4 separate regions of the Homo sapiens genome follow, and regions 1, 2 and 4 are each linked to region 3. Evidence: fine-mapped expression QTL. A gene starts in region 3. Each other region holds a variant in brackets. All regions are shown on one strand. Distances are from middle to middle. Region 1 has its middle 99 kb from the start of KAT6B. Region 2 overlaps AP3M1 (adaptor related protein complex 3 subunit mu 1). Region 3 holds the start of ADK (adenosine kinase). Region 4 overlaps ADK (adenosine kinase).

Region 1 (4,650 bases), 580 kb before region 3:
TTCTTCATTTCTTTCTTCTTTTTTTTTTTTTTTTTTGAGACAGAGTCTCACCCTGTCACCCAGGCTGGAGTGCAGTGGTGCGATCTCAGCTCACTGCAACCTCTGCCTCCCAGGTTCAAGCAATTCTCCTGCCTCAGCCTCCCAAGTAGCTGGGATTACAGGCACCCATCACCATGCCTGGCTAATTTTTGTATTTTTAGTAGAGACGGGGTTTCACCATGTTGGCCAGGCTGGTCTTGAACTCCTGACCTCAGGTGATCTGCCCACCTTGGCCTCCCAAAGTGCTGGGATTATAGGCGTAAGCCACTGCTCCCAGCCAAGTTCTTCATTTCTATCTGATACCTCCTCAGCCTGGCCTTCACAGTCCACATTTCTATCAGCATTTTGGACACAATCATTTAACCAATCTCTGATAAGTTCCAAACTTCCCCTTGTCTTCCTGTCTTCTTCTGAGCCCTCCAAACTCTTCCAACCTCTGCTCATTACACAGTTCCAAAGCCACTTCCACATCCTCAGGTATCTTTATAGCAACATCACACTCCTGGTATCAATGTTCTGTGTTAGTCTGTTTTGCATTGCTAGGGAAGAAATGCCTTCTGGGTCTTTTCCCTATTGTCTTGAATATTAGCACCTAATAATATTTATAATATTTATTATTTATAAATAATAAATATTTATATTTATAATAAAATTATAATAAAGGGAGCCTTGAATAAAGGCCTTTATTATAAATTTATAAAGACTGGGTAATTTGGCCAGGTGCGGTGGCTCATGCCTGTAATCCCAGCACTCTGGGAGGCTGAGGTGGGTGGATCACTTGAGGTCAGGAGTTTGAGGCCACCCTGGCCAATATGGCGAAACTCTGTCTCTACTAAAAATACAAAAATTAGGTAGGTGTGGTGGCTCACGCCTGTAGTCCCAACTACTCGAGAGGCTGAGAGGCAGGAGAATTGCTTGAACCTGCTGAGTGCAGTGGTGCGGAGATCGTGCCACTGCACTCCAGCCTGAGCGACAGAGTGAGACTCCATCTCAAAAAAAAAAAAAAAAGACTGGGTAATTTATAATTATCAAAGACTGGGTAACTTATAAAGAAAAGAAGTTTATTTGGCTCACGGTTCTGTAGGCTGTACAAACATGGCACCGTCATCTGCTCAGCTTATGGTGAAGCCTCTGGAAAGTTTTTTTTTTTTTTTTTTTTTTGAAACAGAGTCTCGCTCTGTCACCCAGGCTGGAGTGCAGTGGCACAATCTTGGCTCACTGCAACCTCTGCCTCCTGGGTTCAAGAGATTCTCCTGCCTTAGCCACTCAAGTAGCTGAGACTACCCATGCATGCCACAATGCCTAGCTAATTTTCGTATTTTTAGTAGAGACAGGGTTTCACCATGTTGGCCAGGCTGGTGTCGAACTCCTGACCTCAAGTGATCTGCCCACTGTGGCCTCCCAAAGTGCTGGGATTAAAGGTGTGAGCCACCATGCCTGGCCAGCCTCAGAAAGATTTTACTCATGGCAGGAAGAAAAGAAAAGAGGGAGTAGGTGTGTCACATAGTGACAGAGAGAGCAAGAGAGAGATGCCAAGCTCTTTTAAACAATCAGCTCTTGTGTGACCTAATACAGCAAAAACTCACTCATTACCGCAGAAGGGCACCAAGCCACTCAGGAGGGATCCACCCCTGTGACCCAAACACCTTTCACTAGGCCCCACCTCCAACACTGGAGATCACATTTCAACATGAGATTCAGAGGGAATAAATATCCAAACCACATCAGCATCTATAGATCAATTTGGGGACAATTGATATCTTAACATTGTTGAGTCTTCTGACCCATGAACAAGGCATATCTAGTTTTTTTTTTATACAGGGTTTCACTCTGTCACCCAAGCTGGAGTGCAGTGGCTTGATCATGGCTCACTGCAGTCTCGACCTCCCACATGCCTGTAGTCCCAGCTACTTGGGAGGCTAAGATGGGCTCAGGTGATCCTCCCATCTCAGCCTCCCAAGTAGCTGGGGCTACAGGCGTGTGTCACCATACCTGGCTAAATATATATATATATATATATATATATTTTTTTTTTTT[TTTG/G]TAGAGACGGGGTTTGCCATGTTGCCCAGGCTGGTCTTGAACTCCTGGGCTCAAGAGATCTGCCCACCTCAGCCTCCTAAGGTGTTGGGATTACAGGCGTGAGCCACTGTGCCCAGACTATTTATTTATTTAGATATTATTTAATTTCTTTCAGCAATATTTTATGGTTTCCAGTTAGAGGACTTCTACGTATTTTGTATTTTGTATTTTACGTATTTTATATTTTTGATGCTATTACAAATGGCATTTTACTAATTTGATAAATTAATAAATGTATGAATTTTCACTGTTAGCATATAGAAATATAATTAATTTTTGTGTATTATCTTGTATCCTTCAACCTTGCTAAACTTGCCTATTAGTTCTAGTTGCTTTTTTCTGGGTTCCTTTAGATTTCTACATAGACAGTCACGTTGTGTGAAAATTGAGACAATTTTACTTCTTCAATTTAGCTGGTTTTTTTTCTTTTTTTTTCTGCCTGATGGAATGGCCAGGACTTCCAGCACAACGTTGAATAGAAAAGGGGAGAGAAGGTGTCTTGTTCCTAGTCTTAGGGAAAACTATTCAGTCTTTCACCACTAAGTGTGATAGTAGCTGTGGGGTTTTTGTAGATGTCCATAATTATGTTGAGGATATCCCTTTCTATTCCAGATTTATTTAGTTTTTATTAGGAATGAATATTGGATTTTGTCAAACGCTTTTCTGTGTCTATCAAGATAATCATATGGTTTTCTTTTTTACTTTGTTAATATGGTGAATTATAATGAATGATTTTTCTTTTAGAGATGGTATCTTTTGTTGTTGTTGCCCAGGCTGGCCTTGAACTCCTGGGCTCAAATGATCCTCCCACCTTAGCCTCCTGAGTAGCTTGGACTACAGGCATAAACGACTGCAACTTGCTCAATTATTGATTTTGAATATTTTATTTACTTAGAAATGGAGTCTTGCTACATTGCTCAGACTGGTCTTAAACTCTCAGCCTCAAGATATGCTCCCAGCGTTGGGATTACAAGTGAGAGCTGCCACATCTGGCCCGATTTTGAAGATTAAACTAGCCCTGTATTCCTGGGATAAACTCCACTTGATCATGATATGTTAACTTTTTTTTTTTTTTTTTTTTTTTTTTTTGAGACAGGGATTCCAGAGTATTTTCTTCTAATGTGTTAATCTGGTTTTGGTTCTAGCCTCAAATAATGAGTTGGAAAGAATTATGTTTTCTTTAATTTATTTTGGAAGAGTATACGTAGAATTGGATTCTTTCTTCCTTAAATGTTTGGTAGACTTCATGAGTAAAGCCATATGGGCCTGAAGGTATTTTTGTAGGAATGCTTTCAACTTTACAAATTCAATTTCTTTAAGATATACAGAGCAACTCCTGCCATCTTTTTGTTTGTTTCTAAGTAATTGTTATTGAGATATAATTAATATACCATAAAACTCAACTTTTAAAGTGTACAATTTAGTTATTTTTAATATATTCAGGTTGTAAAACCACCACCACTAATTCCAGAATATTTCACTACCATCAACCCACCAAGAAGAAACTCCATAACCATTAATAGTCACTCCTCATTTCTCCCATTCTCCCAGTTCCTGGTAATCACTCATCTGCTTTTTCTCTGTGATTCAGATTAATACCAACTTAGTTCCAATAGTATATAAAATATTTGCTCCTATATTGCTTCACCTCCCTCTTTATGCTTTTATTGTCACAAATTATATCTTTATAGGTTATATGCAAATATTTATAATTATTGCTTTATGCAGTTGCCTTTTAAACCAGATAAGAAAGAAGAATTACAATAATAATATGTAAACATTGTCTTCTATATTTACTTATGTGGTTACCCTGACTAGTGTTCTTTTCTTTTCTATTCTTTTTTTGAGACAGAGTTTTGCTCTTTCGCCCAGGCTGGAGTGCAGTGGCGTGATCTCAGCTCGCTGCAACCTCTGTTCCCCGGATTCAAGCAATTCTCCTGCCTCAGCCTCCTGAGTAGCTGGGATTACAGGCATGCACCACCACGCCCGGCTGATTTTTGTATTTTTAGTAGAGATGGGGTTTCACCACATTGGCCAGGCTCATCTCAAACTTGTGGCCTCAGGTGATCAGGCCGCCTCGGCCTCCCAAAGTGCTAGGATTACAGGCATGAGCCATCGCGCCCCGCCTGACGAGTGTTCTTTATTTCTCTGTGTGGATTTGAATTATTGTCTAGTGTCCCTTCATTTCAGCCCAGAGGATGCCACTTAGCATATCTTTTAGAGAAGTTTCTTCAATAAACTCCCTCAGCTTTTGTTTATCTAGGAATATCTCAATTTCTTCATTTTTGAAGGATATTTTTGTTGGATTCTTGGTTAATTTTTTTCTGTCAGAGATTTAAATATGACACCCCACAGCCTTCTTTTAAAATAGACTTGATTTTTTAGAGCAGTTTTACAATTTTCACAGCAAAATTGAGCAGAAAATTTCAGGAGTTCCCATATACCTCTGGACTCCCAACGGGCACAGCCTCCTCTACTACGTCTCCTCTACTACCAACGTCCTGCACAAAAGTGGTATATTTGTTACAGTCA
Region 2 (4,650 bases), 22 kb after region 3:
CAATATCTTCTCTTCCATGAGTCCCCTTTTCATTATAACATTCCATCTTATAGAATAATAGATTTTTGCCAGGCACGGTGGCTCACACCTGTAATCCCAGCACTTTGGGAGGCTTAGGCAGGAAGATCACTTGAGCCCAGGAGTTCAAGACCAGCCTAGGCAACATAGCAAGACCCCATATCTATCAAAAATTTAAAAGATTAGCTAGGCATGGCTTCCTTAATCCTACCTATTCAGAAGGCTGAGGCAGGAGGATTGCTTGAGCCCAGGAGTTCAATGCTGTGGTGAACTATGTTCACACCACTGTACTCCAGCCTGGATGGCAGAGGGAGACCCTGTCTCTTAAAAAAAAAGAGATATCTTTCTATTATGGATCCTATTTCTTAAAAGTTAACTTAGTCCATTTCATAATACACTTGCCACATTTTAAAATTCTATTGAAGCCGGGCGCGGTGGCTCACACCTGTAATCCCAGCACTTTAGGAGGCTGAGGCGGGTGGATCACGAGGTTAGGAGATCCAGACCATCCTGGCTAACACAGTGAAACCCCATCTCTACTAAAAATACAAAAAATTAGCTGGGTGTGGTGGCAGGCGCCTGTAGTCCCAGCTACTCGAGAGACTGAGGCAGGAGAATGGCGTGAACCCGGGAGACAGAGCTTGCAGTGAGCCCAGATAGCGCCACTGCACTCCATCCAGCCTGGGTGACAGAGCAAGACTCCGTCTCAAAAAAAAAATTAAAAAAAAATAAAATTCTATTGAAAATGGTTTTGGTTGGTTTGTTTTATTTTGTTTTTGAGACAGAGTCTCACATTGTCGCCCAGGCTGTAGTGCAGTGTTGTGGTTTCAGCTCACTGCAACCTCCGCCTTCTACGTTCAAGCGATTCTCCTGCCTCAGCCTCCCAAGTAGCTGGGACTACACGCACACACCACCACGCCTGGCTAATTTTTTGTATTTTTAGTAGAAACGGGGTTTTGCCATGTTGCCCAGGCTGGTCCCAAACTCCTGAGCTCAGATAATCTACCCACGTCAGCCTCCCTAAGTGCTAGGATTACAGGCATGAGCCACTGCGTCCTGCCAAATGTTTTAAACTCATATCCAGTCATCTTACAGGGTTGGCTCCATAAAGGAAACAGTTTAATTTTCCTTAGAATTAGCATATTCTGGCTGGGTATGGTAGCTCACACCTGTAATCCCAGCACTTTGGGAAGCTAAGGTAGGCGGATTGCTTGAGCCCAGAAGTTTGAGACCAGCCTGGGCAACATAACAAGACCCTGTCTCTACAAAAAAAATACAAAAATTAGCCAGGCGTGGAGGTGCATGCCTGTAGTACCAGCTGCTTGGGAGGCTGAGGTGGGAGGATTGCTTGAGCCCAGGAGGTTGAGGCTGGCTATCATAGCACCACTACGCTCCAGCCTGGGTGACAGAGCAAGACCCTGTCTCAAAAAAAAAAAAATTATATTCTACAGTGGCATACCTGTAGTCTCAGTTACTCTGGGGACCAGCTGGGACTAGCTAGTCAGACTTTATCTCTTAAAAATAAAAGAATTATTATTATATTCCAGCCAGAGTTAAGTATGGACCTTGTCCCCTGACCTGTTAATAGAGATGTAAAGCTTCAGTTAATCTGACACCCAGAGGGTATCTCTATTGTTCTAGATGTAGTGATTGTTGGGCTAGGTGTCATGGCACGCACCTATATTCCCAGCTATTTGGGAGGCTAGGGCAGGAGGATTACTTGAGCCCAGGAGTGAGGCTGCAG[T/C]GAGCTATGATCATACAACTGCACTCCAACCTTGGCAACAGAGCAAGACTCTGTCTCTAAAAACAATAAATAAAAATAAAAAGATACAGTGATAGGTCTAGTGAAGACTCATATTCCATTGATGTTATCTTCCTTTTTTTTTTCTTTCTTCAGGATCTACAGTCTTTGCAGAAATTCAGGGGGTCATTGATGCTTGCATTAAACTATCTGGAATGCCTGATCTCTCCCTTTCTTTCATGGTAAGTTTTATTCTCCTGTTTTATAGCCCCTTGAATGCCTAATACATGTGAAGTACTAAATGAAATGATAAATATTGAGATAAGTTTGCATCTTAGATTGCAAAGGATTATCTCAGAAATATTCCTAGCAGAGTTTCCTAAGACAGTCGCTTACATGATGAGCGTGGTCTTTGTGGAAAGACTAAGGGAGGTCTTTGCCTGAGTGTGCTAGAAGGGGCTTAAAATTGGCTGGCTGGCTTCTGCAAATATCCAGTATCATTTTTACTGAATAATTATTTGCTTTGCTGATATGAAAGGACACTGGTCTTTTGTATCATTTTAGAGTCAGCATGATATACTGCTAGGAACAATTAAGAGAACTGACTTCTGGTGTTGTCACCAGTTTGCTCTGACCTTAAGTCCTCTGAACCTCAGTTTTTTAATCTGTTAAAGGGAAATAATACTACTTGCCTTTTCTCCTTTATAGTTATTGAAATTCAAATAAAATAATGTACATAAAATATTTACAAACTTTAAAGCATTATGAAACTATAAGGTTGTGTAGATGTGGTCATAAACTCTTCCATGACTGCTTTATCTTCAGGGAACATATTTGTCAAGGTATCTGAGTACAGTTCCCATATTCATTATAGTCTATGAACGACTGTCTTCTGTTTTTCTGGCAGAACCCTAGGCTTCTGGATGATGTCAGCTTTCACCCCTGCATCCGGTTCAAGCGTTGGGAATCTGAAAGAGTTTTGTCATTTATTCCTCCAGATGGAAATTTCCGACTCATATCATACCGTGTCAGCTCACAAAAGTATGTTGATGCATCAGCCAGAATCTGCCATCATACATATCAAGTACAACTCACCTTTCCCTGTTTCTTTCTGAAAGTTGAGTACTTGAGGTCATCACTGCTCACTTTAACCATAGCTCACCAGGAGACCCAGTGAGAACGGGTGAAAATACGCACCTAAAATAATCCGTATACTTTGAATGTATGAGTGTAGAGTGGTACTAAGTGAGACTAGAGTAAAATCTATAGCCAAGAACAAGCAAACCATACATAACCTGGGCAAAAATTGTGGTACCGGTCCTTTGCAAGGTTATGCATGGTCAAATTATGGCACTGGTTCTTTGCTCAGGTTATGCATGGTCCATTTTGCTCTGCTTCTGAAAGCTGAGTACTTTGCAAGCAGAGCAAAACGGACCATGCATAACCTGGGCAAAACCATGAACCATTGCCATAATCTTACCATAGTCTGTAGAGTTTGTGGCCAACAAGGAGACAGACCTACCTGTAGTTCGTGAGGACATTCCCCAATTTACCTGCTTCAAGTACGTCTTCTCTGCGTTGAGTTTTTAAGGAACTGTTTAGCATTGAGGGGCCGGGTGCAGTGGTTCACTCCTGTAATCCCAACACTTTGGGAGGCCAATGTGGGCAGATCACTTGGGGTCAAGAGTTCTAGACCAGTCTGGTCAACATGGTGAAACCCTGTCTCTACTAAAAACACAAAATTAGCCAGGCGTGGTAGCGTGTGCCTATATAATCTCAACTACTTAGGAGGCTGAGGCATGAGAATCACTTGAACCTGGAAGGCAGAGGTTGCAGTGACAGATCACACCACTGCACTACAGCCTGGCCAACAGGGTAAAACTCCATCTCAAAAAAAAAAAAAATTTAGCATTGGGGATCGGAGTTATAGGTAGTTTGTTTCTTGAAAATACCAAAAGTTATTTGAGTAACATCATGACAGAACTCAAAAACAGAGAAATTATTTCTCGGCTCTTTTCTTTTCCTTTTTTTTTTTTTTTTTTTTTTTTAAGCCGGAGTTTGGCTCTTGTTGCTCAGGCTGGAGTGCAATGGTGAAATCTCGGCTTACTGCAACCTCCACCTCCAGGGTTCAAGTGATTCTCCTGCCTCGGCCTCCCAAGTAGCTGGGATTACAGGCATGCACCACCACACCCGGCTAATTTTGTGTTTTTAGTAGAGGCGGGGTTATTCCATGTTGGTCAGACTGGTCTCGAACTCCAGACCTCAGGTGATCTGCCCACCTCAGCCTCCCAAAGTGCTGGGATTACAGGCGTGAGCCACCGTGCCTGGCCTGTTTCTTGGCTCTTATCACATAGGAACTGTTTTCATTTATATAAAACATATTTTACATTATTTTTCAGTGGGATCATAATTCATTTTAAACTAGGGCCATTTGCCCCAATTGTTTTTGTTTGTTTGTTTTATGTTATTTTGTTTTGTTTGTTTGTTTTGAGACGGAGTTTCACTATTGTCACCCAGGCTGGAGTGCAATGGTGTGATCTTGGCTCACTGCAACCTCTACCTCCTGGGTTCAAGCGATTCTCCTGCCTCAGCCTCCCAAGTAGCTGGGATTACAGGCACCTGCCACCGCGCCCAGCTAATTTTTGTTTTTTGTTATTTTTTTTTTTTATTAGAGAGGGGATTTCACCATGTTGGCCAGGCTGGTCTCAAACTCCTGACCTCCAGTGATCTGCCTGCCTTGGCCTCCCAAAGTGCTGGGATTACAGGTGTGAGCCACTGCACCCAGCCACCCCAATTGTTTATACTGTTATTAAACTTCAGATTTCTGTCTTGATTTGTATACAGTTCCCAGCACAGTGGTACAAGAACATTATGCTGTACTCAGCTCCCCC
Region 3 (4,000 bases):
AGATAATTCTTTGTTGTGGGGGTTGTCCTATGTAGCATGTTTAGCAGCACCCCTGAATTCCATCCACTAGGTGCCAATAGCTCTCCCTACCAAAAATATCTTTCTAGACCACGCCAAATGTCCCCTGGAGGGCAAAATTTCCCCTGGTGGAGAATTATTATCCCAGAGCTGACCAAATTCTCACAAATCCCTAAATCTAAATATTTTTCCTGACATCTACAAATATATCTCATTATTTGTTCCCACTGATGCTGCACATTAAATTATGCAAAGTCTTTATAATCCATTCTCCTTAACCAAAACCAGTAGCAATCCCCTGTCAAGCAAGTCATCATAAATTCAGTGTAAATACTCAATGCATTATCACACTTTGAGTCTGAAAGCAAATTAATATAATAAAAGTAATAATAGCCGATCCTAAAATGTCTCCCCACAAAATTAGAGATTTGTCCCAGTACTCAAGTGTCTAATCTTTTAACTTCATGTCTACAGGTGGCACTAAATTCATATTGTATAAAGTGAATTTTAGTTGCCTAAGGAATGCTCTCACCACAGCCTCACAAAGCACCAGGACTGCAGGTATAAGAAAACATGCTCAGCTAGTTCCTATTTCTGTTCCTGTACTAATTGTTTTATTTGGGCTTCAATATCTTCAATTGTAAAATAGGCATAATTCTTGCCTTCCTTTGATCACAGAACTGTCCAACAAGATAATAAATAGGAAAACACAGTGAAAATGGATCAGCATTATATATAATAATTTTTATTAAGGAAAAATCTAAGGAAATCTAAGGGTTATATGTTCAGTAGGATGGTAGGGAAAAGTTGCATCTGTCTTCCAGTTTGGCGAAGGAGGTGCCTTATAAGGAAATACTCTAATAAAGGGCAGAGTAGGGAAAGCACATGCCTTGAACTCAGGTAGGTCTGATTCAAAAGCCGTTGCTTTTTATTCTGCATATAGTTGGAATATTTAAAATAAAAATAGAATATCCTGAGGGTTTTTATTTTAAAGTTTATGTTCTTGGTATAAGGTAGGCACACTAACCCTTTGAGGGTAGTAGGAATACATTAAAGGAACTGGCAAGGATTTGTTCACCCTCCATTCAAAGCAGCATGAACACACCACCAGGCCCCTAAGTGTCCTTTTCTTTTCAATTGTGAGTGATTCCTTCCTTTGGAGGTGAAGAAGAGTGATACTGGAAGAAATGGGATATGTCCTGTTTAATCAGGAGTGTCCTAATAGTTTTAAATCAGTTTGATATGTCTATTTTAAGATGGAAAAAAAAATCGCTGCCTTTCAGCGAACATTTCCAAATCATCAAAGACTGCCTGCTTCACTTTATACTTATTAGGAAGGGATATTTTAACAAATGACTCTTCATAAGTAAAAGTTGCAACATCAATCACATGTGAGGCAGGTGTTAGGGGCAGCACTGTCCCCGTTGCTGCCAAAAAGTGTAAATAAAAAAGAGAAATCAACCTTTCCTATCCATTCATCCAAATGCTGCCCCTGCAAAGCATCGGAGGGGTCTGGGTCCCTGGTAGAGGGTCCTCAAAGGTACGGGCTTTCAGAATGTGCACGAAAAGGAAGGTCAACGTGCCCTTCCGCAACACTCTGAAAAATCCCCAAGAATTCTGACTTTGCCCCAGTGTACAGCAGTTGCCGAGCCTCTTTCCCGCCATCCCCCGGGAAGAGAAGGCGGCCGCCTACAGACGCTGCTCCGGTCCGACCCTCCGGGGTCGCACCAGCCCAGCCTGGGCTTGCTCGCAGGTGGCGCGGTCAGCCAGCTCGGTCCCCCTGCGGGCCACGACTGGCGAAGGGCTGCTGGAGCCGGAGCTGCACCAGACAGGCGGGGACTCAGCCAAACGGAGAGAACGTCTGGCAAGGGGTCGCGGCCAAGCGGGCAGCTGGGGGAGGTCCTGCGTGTTGGCCCCAAGCTGGCAGTGAGAGACACCACCCAGCGTCGGGGCCGTGCAACCCCACGTGGGCCCTGGCTTGCTTGCAGCGCCGTCACCCTCCTCCCCAAGTCCGGCAGCGCTCACCTCAGCGCTTGCGGCGCCTCCACCTTCAGCTTTTTGGGCTTCGGCTCCTCCTCAGCAGCTGCCATCTTCGCGCTCCCACCCCACTTTGGCTCTACAGCCCACCTCTGCCATCCACTCTCTGGTCCCGCCCCCTCTTCGCATCACCGCTTTCTCTTCTCCAAATCCCGCCCCTCCAGACTCCGCCCATTCTGTGCCGCTGTCATCCACAATCATTGGCTCTATCCGTCGGCACCAACAGCGAATGCCCCGCCCATTCCTGACCCCGCCTCCCCTACCATGAGGGACCCCAGACTGCGTTAGGCAGCAGATGACCGCCTGAATCTAGATGGAGAGAAACCCACCATTTTTCTAGGCCCTGGATTATGTAGAAGATTTAGATACTAAGCCTCAAGAGACGTCTTTCCTCTCATTTACGGTCTTCCTGCATATTTAAAATTTCTAATACGGTAGACAGAGTCGGTGTCTTTGAAGCTGTTAATCAGGCAATTTCCTGGGCACTCCAGCTGCGGGTCCTCGCGGCCTTCTCGGCTTCTCCAGCTTCGGTAGGAGAGGATCCGGCGCCGAATCACTGACTGGCACAGGTGTTGGGGTGAGTGTGAGGGGCGGGAAATCTGTGGACTGGGGACAGCTCCAAAACCCGGGAGTAGGCTGAATAGCTGGGGCCCCCGACTCCGATCTGGGCTCTAGGAGCGTCTTTGGTGCTGTTGGCCCGGGCCTCGCTTCCCCCCCACTCCCGGCCTTCCGGGCTTTCTCGCCAGCAAGGCCAGAAGGGAGCGGTCCACCTGCAGCCCAGTGTTCTCAGGCGCCTGAGCCCCGGAGGTCAAGCTTACTGGGTTCCCCCTCTATAGTGAGCTGGAGTACAGACGGCAGGAATCTCAGTCCCAGGTTTCTGCTTTGGAGGACAAAACCCCAAACGGACCTGAGCAGACGTCCTGTTAGCGGGTGGTGCCTGGAAGAGCCTGGGGTGAGGAATGCAGTGAGAAGGGTGTTGCAGTTCTTCAGGAGAGAGGTAACGGGGTTCTAAGCTGAGCAGGTGGCAGTGAGTGTGGAAGAGTGACGGGCGATGTGGCTGTTTGTATTTGGTAGATTTGTTTGAACCTGAAACTTACAGCCTTATGTGTGATTAAGAAGATGGTGCCAGTGACAGGAGGAGGTATTTTATGGAGTTTGAGTTTTATCGAATTTGAAACAGTGGTTTACATGGAGATTGTAGAAAGACTTTAAAAAAAATTATGAGAATTAAGCCCGAAAGACTTTCAAGGTGAGACCCAAAACAGATGAAGTTTCATATAAAAGGGTAAGAAGTATTTTTGTTTAGGAGAAAGTTATCAATGACATAAAATGCTGCAATGGTCAGAGGAGGAAGCTGAAATCAGAATAGGTCGTTGGATTTTATAATTAGAAAGTCATTGAGCTGTTTGAGAGAGATGCTTTAATAGTAACTGAGGAAAGACTGCAAGTGTAGACCAATCCTTCATCATTTGGGGCATGAAGCAAGATTATTGAGAGTGGCAAGGTGGGGGAAAGTTTGGGGTTTGTTTTAAAGAATACAAGATATCTATTTGGGGGCAGGAAGCAAGCAACTATTTGAAGATTCAAGAAAAAGTCTTGTCTCCCAGAAGAGAAGGAAAGGAATGGGATCAAGTTACAAGTGAAAGGATTAATTTGGGAAAGACAGAGGGACACTTTCAATTGACACTATAGGAGAAGTGAAGTGAATGAGGTTAATGAAGAATTATCTTAATTTACGAATCTTGGCCAGGCGCGGTGGCTCACGCCTGTAATCTCAGCACTTTGGCAGGCTGAAGCGGGCGGATCACAAAGTCAGGAGTTCGAGACCAACCTGGCCAACATAGTGAAACCCTGTCTCTACTAAAAATACAAAAATTAGCCAGGTGTGGTGGCACACGCCTGTAGTCCCAGCTACTTGGTAGGCTGAGGCAGGAGAATCCCTTGA
Region 4 (4,650 bases), 150 kb before region 3:
ATTCAAAAGTATACAGACATACAATATTACTTTTACATTACTGCTAATACAACTCTCATTTTGACAATACCTTTTTTTTTTTTTGAGACAAGAGTTTCACTCTTGTTGCCCAGGCTGGAGTGCAATGGTGCGATCTCAGCTCACTGCAACCTCCACCTCCCGGGTTCAAGCGATTCTCCTGCCTCAGCCTCCCTAATAGCTGAGATTACAGGCACCAGCCACCACACCCAGCTAATTTTTTATATTTTTAGTAGAGACGGGTTTTCACTATGTTGGCCAGGCTGGTCTCGAACTCCTGACTTCAGGTGATCCACCCGCCTCAGCCTCCCAAAGTGCTGGGATTACAGGCGTTAGCCACTGCACCCAGCTTGATATTTTAAAAGCAAGGACTTTGAAAATTTATCAGTGTAGAAGCTTTATCTTGTGCATGCCTTTCTAGCAAAAAAAAAAAAAAAAAAAAAAAAAACAACATTAAAACCAATATGAAAAGTGTTTAGATACTGGAGATACTTTCTTTCATCTTCCAAATACTACAAATAAAGAAAACCACAAGTTTGCTGAAGTTTAAAACATCTGGGGAATATCTTAATATACTCATTTTTAAGAGCTCCATATTAAAGAATAGCCTGAAGGGTAGATGATAAATCTGCTCTAAAACTGAAAGTGTGTTTTTAATCCTATTGAATAGAAACAGGTTTCTTTCTTAAATGGGGGAACTATAATCCAGATGCAAAGTGCCAAAAGACAAAATATTCCATAAAAGGAAACTTTAAAAATATAGACTAGCGTTCAATTTTAAAATAAGCACAAGAGTATGTTTTTACTGAGATATTAACAACTATAAGTGTCAATAATCCTTTTGTAACTGCTAACTGAAAAATACATAGGTGATTATCTCATTATTGTGTTTCATATCTTCTGAACAGGTTATAAATATACTTTTGTAAAAGATGTCCCCAGCTGTAAACTCTCATAGGACAAACAAAAAACTGAAGATGCATCTTTATTATGCATAAAGTTAATATTAATGCAAAAGTATGTTTCATAACAATATCATTTGCCAAAATATACATTACAGAGAAATGATTATCAAGGCATGGTACATGAGATCCTTAAATTCATATTTCCCACAGAATTTAAAATAAAACTGCCTGCCATGCTTATGAATTTGAAGAAATTATTCCTGGGTTGTTTTTTTTTAAACAAAAACTCACACTAGACTCAGTAAAATGTGGAATATAAATTCGTTTCCTTTTTTTGAGACAGGCTCTCCCTCTGTAATGGAGGCTGGAGTGCAGTGGCACGATTTGGGTTCACTGCAACTTCCGCCTCCCAGGCTCAAGCCAACCTCCTACCTCAGTGCCACAAGTAGCTGGGACCATAGGCATGCAGCACTATAACCAGCTCATTTTAAAATATTTTTGTTAAGAGACGAGGTTTTGCCAAGTTGCTCCGGCTGGTTTTGAACTCCTGGACTCAAGTGAGCCATCTGCCTTGGCCTCCCAAAGTGCTGAGATTATAGGCATGAGCCACTGTGCCCAGCCTGGAATATAAATTCTTTCCAGTACAAACTGGACTTCAAAAGTAAAGCACTCTGAGAAAACCATCAACAGTCCATTTGAAAGCAAAAACAGGCTGGGGGCAGTGGCTCATGCCTATAATCCTAGCACTTTGGGAGGCTGAGGTGGGCTGATTGCCTGAGCTCAGGAGTTTGAAACTAGCCCAGGGAACATGGTGAAACCCCATCTCTACTAAAATACAAAAAATTAGCCAGGCATGGTGGTCCCACCTGTAACTACTCAGGAGGCTGAGGTGGAAGAATCGCTTGAACCCGGGAGGTAGGGGTTGCAGCGAGCCAAGATCACGCCACTGCACCCCAGCCTGGTCGACAGAGCAAGACTCCATCTCAAAAAAAAAAAAAAAAAAAAAAAAAAAAAAAAAAAAACAAACAAACAAAAAAAAAACAGAAAAGAAAAGAAAGCAAAAATAAGCTTTAAAAAAAGGTAAAAATACAAAGCCCTGAATTCCAAAGTCATTCAGTTACTATAGGAGAAAAGTGTTGCAGGATAAGGGTACAGGACACACTCTGCTGATATTTAATTGCAGGTGAATCTCTTTTGTAACACTTCAAACATTTAAATTACATTATGAAGACAACTAACTTTTCTAAATTTGAGTATTTTTAGTATTTTCGAAATGCAAGAACTTTAAAATGCTAATAAAGGATACTCAACCCAATGCATAACTGGTTTCTAATTAGACATCTATTATTCTTTTAGAAGAAGATGAGGGTCAGAAAGCTTTCTTTGTAAAAGGCCAGGTAGTAAATAGTTTGGGCTCTATGGGTAATGAGAAAAAAACCAAGGACATTATCTAGGTACTTATAAAACAAAAAACTTTTACTGACAAATTTAGGAATATTAATAACAATAAAATTTTTTGTTTATCAGGTTTAGTAATGAGAAGAATGTAATTCTTTTAGGGGAAATAACATTTCATTTAATTGGTGTTTAAAGTTACTTTTTTTTTTTTTTTTTTTTTGAGACAGAGTCTCATTCTGTCACCCAGGCTGGAGTGCAGTGGTGCAATCTGGGCTCACCGCAACCTCCGCCTCCCGGGTTCAAGCGTTTCTCCTGTCTTAGCCTCCCGAGAAGCTGAGACTACAGGCGCACGCCACCACGCCCAGCTAATTTTTTGTATTTTTAGTAGAGATGGGGATTAACCATATTGGCCAGACTGGTCTTGAACTCCTGACCTCATGATCCACCTGCCTCGGCCTCCCAAAGTGCTGAGATTACAGGTGTGAGCCACTGTGCCTGGCCAAAGTTACTGTTATCAATCAAAATTGAT[C/T]GCAAATATTCATCTGTTAACATTGATCTATAATAATTTCACATATTTCAACTTTGAATGTCTCTATATACAAATAGATACTCCCAAATACTGATATAAATCCAATAGCATATGATTTAAATTAAGCATATTTATCACTTAGAAAGCATTTATAGAATTCTATCAGAGCTTTTTCTTGATATTTCCCCTTTAGCATGTAGATTGCAGATTAATCACTTCTAATGTAACATAAGGTAGAAGCTCCGTGATTGCAGTGTTAGATGGATTTTGAAATAAAGAAGTTATCTCTGCTCTGGCATCAATATTGCTAAAACTATAGTTTGAGCCCACAAACATCTGCTACAAATGTGTGTGGAAATAGAAGTATCACTTCTTGTTTTAACTTTTGACAGAATGGGACATTGTATATAAAGCAGCTTGACATTACTTGTGATTCAAACTACATTAGCTGCTGTCAAATAACTTTACCATAGTATAAGTTTTACATATAAGCACTGGTATGCCTCAAAATTAAGAAACCATATAAAGGCTGCCACAGTGGCTCACACCTGTAATCCCAGCACTATGGGAAGCCAAAGTGAGTGGATAGCTTGACATTAGGAGTTTGAGACCAGGCTGGTCAACATGGTGAAATCCTGTCTCTACTAAAAATACAAAAAGCTTAGCTGGGCATGGTGGCATGAGGCTGTAGTCCCAGCTACTTGGGAGGCTGAGGTAGGAGAATTGCTTGAACCAGGGAGGTGGAAGTTGCAGTGAGCCAAGACAGCACCACCGCACTCCAGCCTGCGTGACAGAGTGAAACCCTGTTGAGAAAAGAGAAAAGAGACAAAGAAGAAAGAAAGAAAGGAAGGAAGGAAGGAAGGAAGGAAGGAAGGAAGGAAGGAAGGAAGGAAAGAAGGAAGGAAGGAAGGAAGGAAGGAAGGAAGGAAGGAAGGAAGGAAGGAAACAAGGAGAGAGAGAGAGAGAGAAAGAAAGAAACAAACAACAACAATATCAGTATCATTAAGAAATAATGTATTAGCCAGGGACATGATGGCTCACACCTATAATCCCAACACTTTGGGAGCTTGAGGCAGGAGGATCACATGAGTCCAGGAGTTCAAGACCAACCTGGAGAACATAGCAAGATCCTGTTTCTAAAAAAAAAAAAAAGAAGACGAAGAAGAAGAAAGAAAAGAAACAATATAAAGTCTTCAGTAAAAGCTAATTTTCAAAGCCATTTCATATGCAATAACAGTAGTTGAAGGAGCTTCTCCTTGTTTAGAAAAATTTGAATCTTGACCATAAGCTCAAACAACTGCAGTAATCAAACTGATGGGTGGTCAGGCAAGTCAAATATACAGCTTAAATTTCTGATAAAAACTTACAGAACTATCTCTTCATACAGCAAATGAAGTTCACTGTTGATAATACTGGTTCAATAATAAATGATATTCAAATAATAAATCATAGATTCAAATGTTGTCTACAAAATAGCTGCTAATAAATAATACAATGAATAGCCATAGGCTTTACAACCTTATAGTTTCACAAACTTTGTAGATTTCTCCAATTAACCCTTTTTTCTGATCCATATATATGTATAATGTATATTTAAAATATATATGGAGCAAAAAGGTTAAGTGGAGAAATCTACAAAGTTTATGATATAAATATGTATTTTAATATATTTTATATATATATATATATTTCTTTTTTTTTTTTTGAGACAGAGTCTTGCTGTGTCACCCAGGCTGGAGTGCAATGGCATCATCTCAGCTCACTGTATCCTCCACCTCCCAGGTTCGAGCAGTTCTCCTG

The links. PIP is the estimated chance that this variant, and not a neighbour inherited with it, causes the effect.
Region 1: its variant is the best candidate, but not a certain one, in a credible set for the expression of ADK in monocytes (Fairfax 2014, PIP 0.52).
Region 2: its variant is the best candidate, but not a certain one, in a credible set for the expression of ADK in transverse colon (GTEx, PIP 0.58).
Region 4: its variant is the best candidate, but not a certain one, in a credible set for the expression of ADK in whole blood (INTERVAL, PIP 0.81).

What each region holds. Positions count from the first base shown.
Region 1 is chr10:74,725,381-74,730,030 of GRCh38, reverse strand. No RefSeq gene overlaps it. Among named protein-coding and RNA genes, the nearest start is that of KAT6B, 99 kb to the left of the region's middle. The variant TTTG/G (reference allele first, on the strand shown) is at 2,077.
Region 2 is chr10:74,127,258-74,131,907 of GRCh38, reverse strand. AP3M1 (adaptor related protein complex 3 subunit mu 1) reads left to right here. Exons shown (of 9, transcript NM_012095.6): 5 at 1,916-2,001; 6 at 2,667-2,800. Among named protein-coding and RNA genes, the nearest start is that of AP3M1, 21 kb to the left of the region's middle. The variant T/C (reference allele first, on the strand shown) is at 1,763.
Region 3 is chr10:74,149,387-74,153,386 of GRCh38, reverse strand. It overlaps ADK (adenosine kinase), which reads right to left and starts at 2,166. Exons shown (of 11, transcript NM_006721.4): 1 at 2,044-2,166. The coding sequence starts at 2,108. It overlaps AP3M1 (adaptor related protein complex 3 subunit mu 1), which reads left to right and starts at 2,559. Exons shown (of 9, transcript NM_012095.6): 1 at 2,559-2,632. RefSeq lists enhancers at 1,816-1,995, 2,406-2,635.
Region 4 is chr10:74,299,405-74,304,054 of GRCh38, reverse strand. The region is part of intron 3 of ADK (adenosine kinase); the gene reads right to left. Among named protein-coding and RNA genes, the nearest start is that of ADK, 150 kb to the right of the region's middle. The variant C/T (reference allele first, on the strand shown) is at 2,851.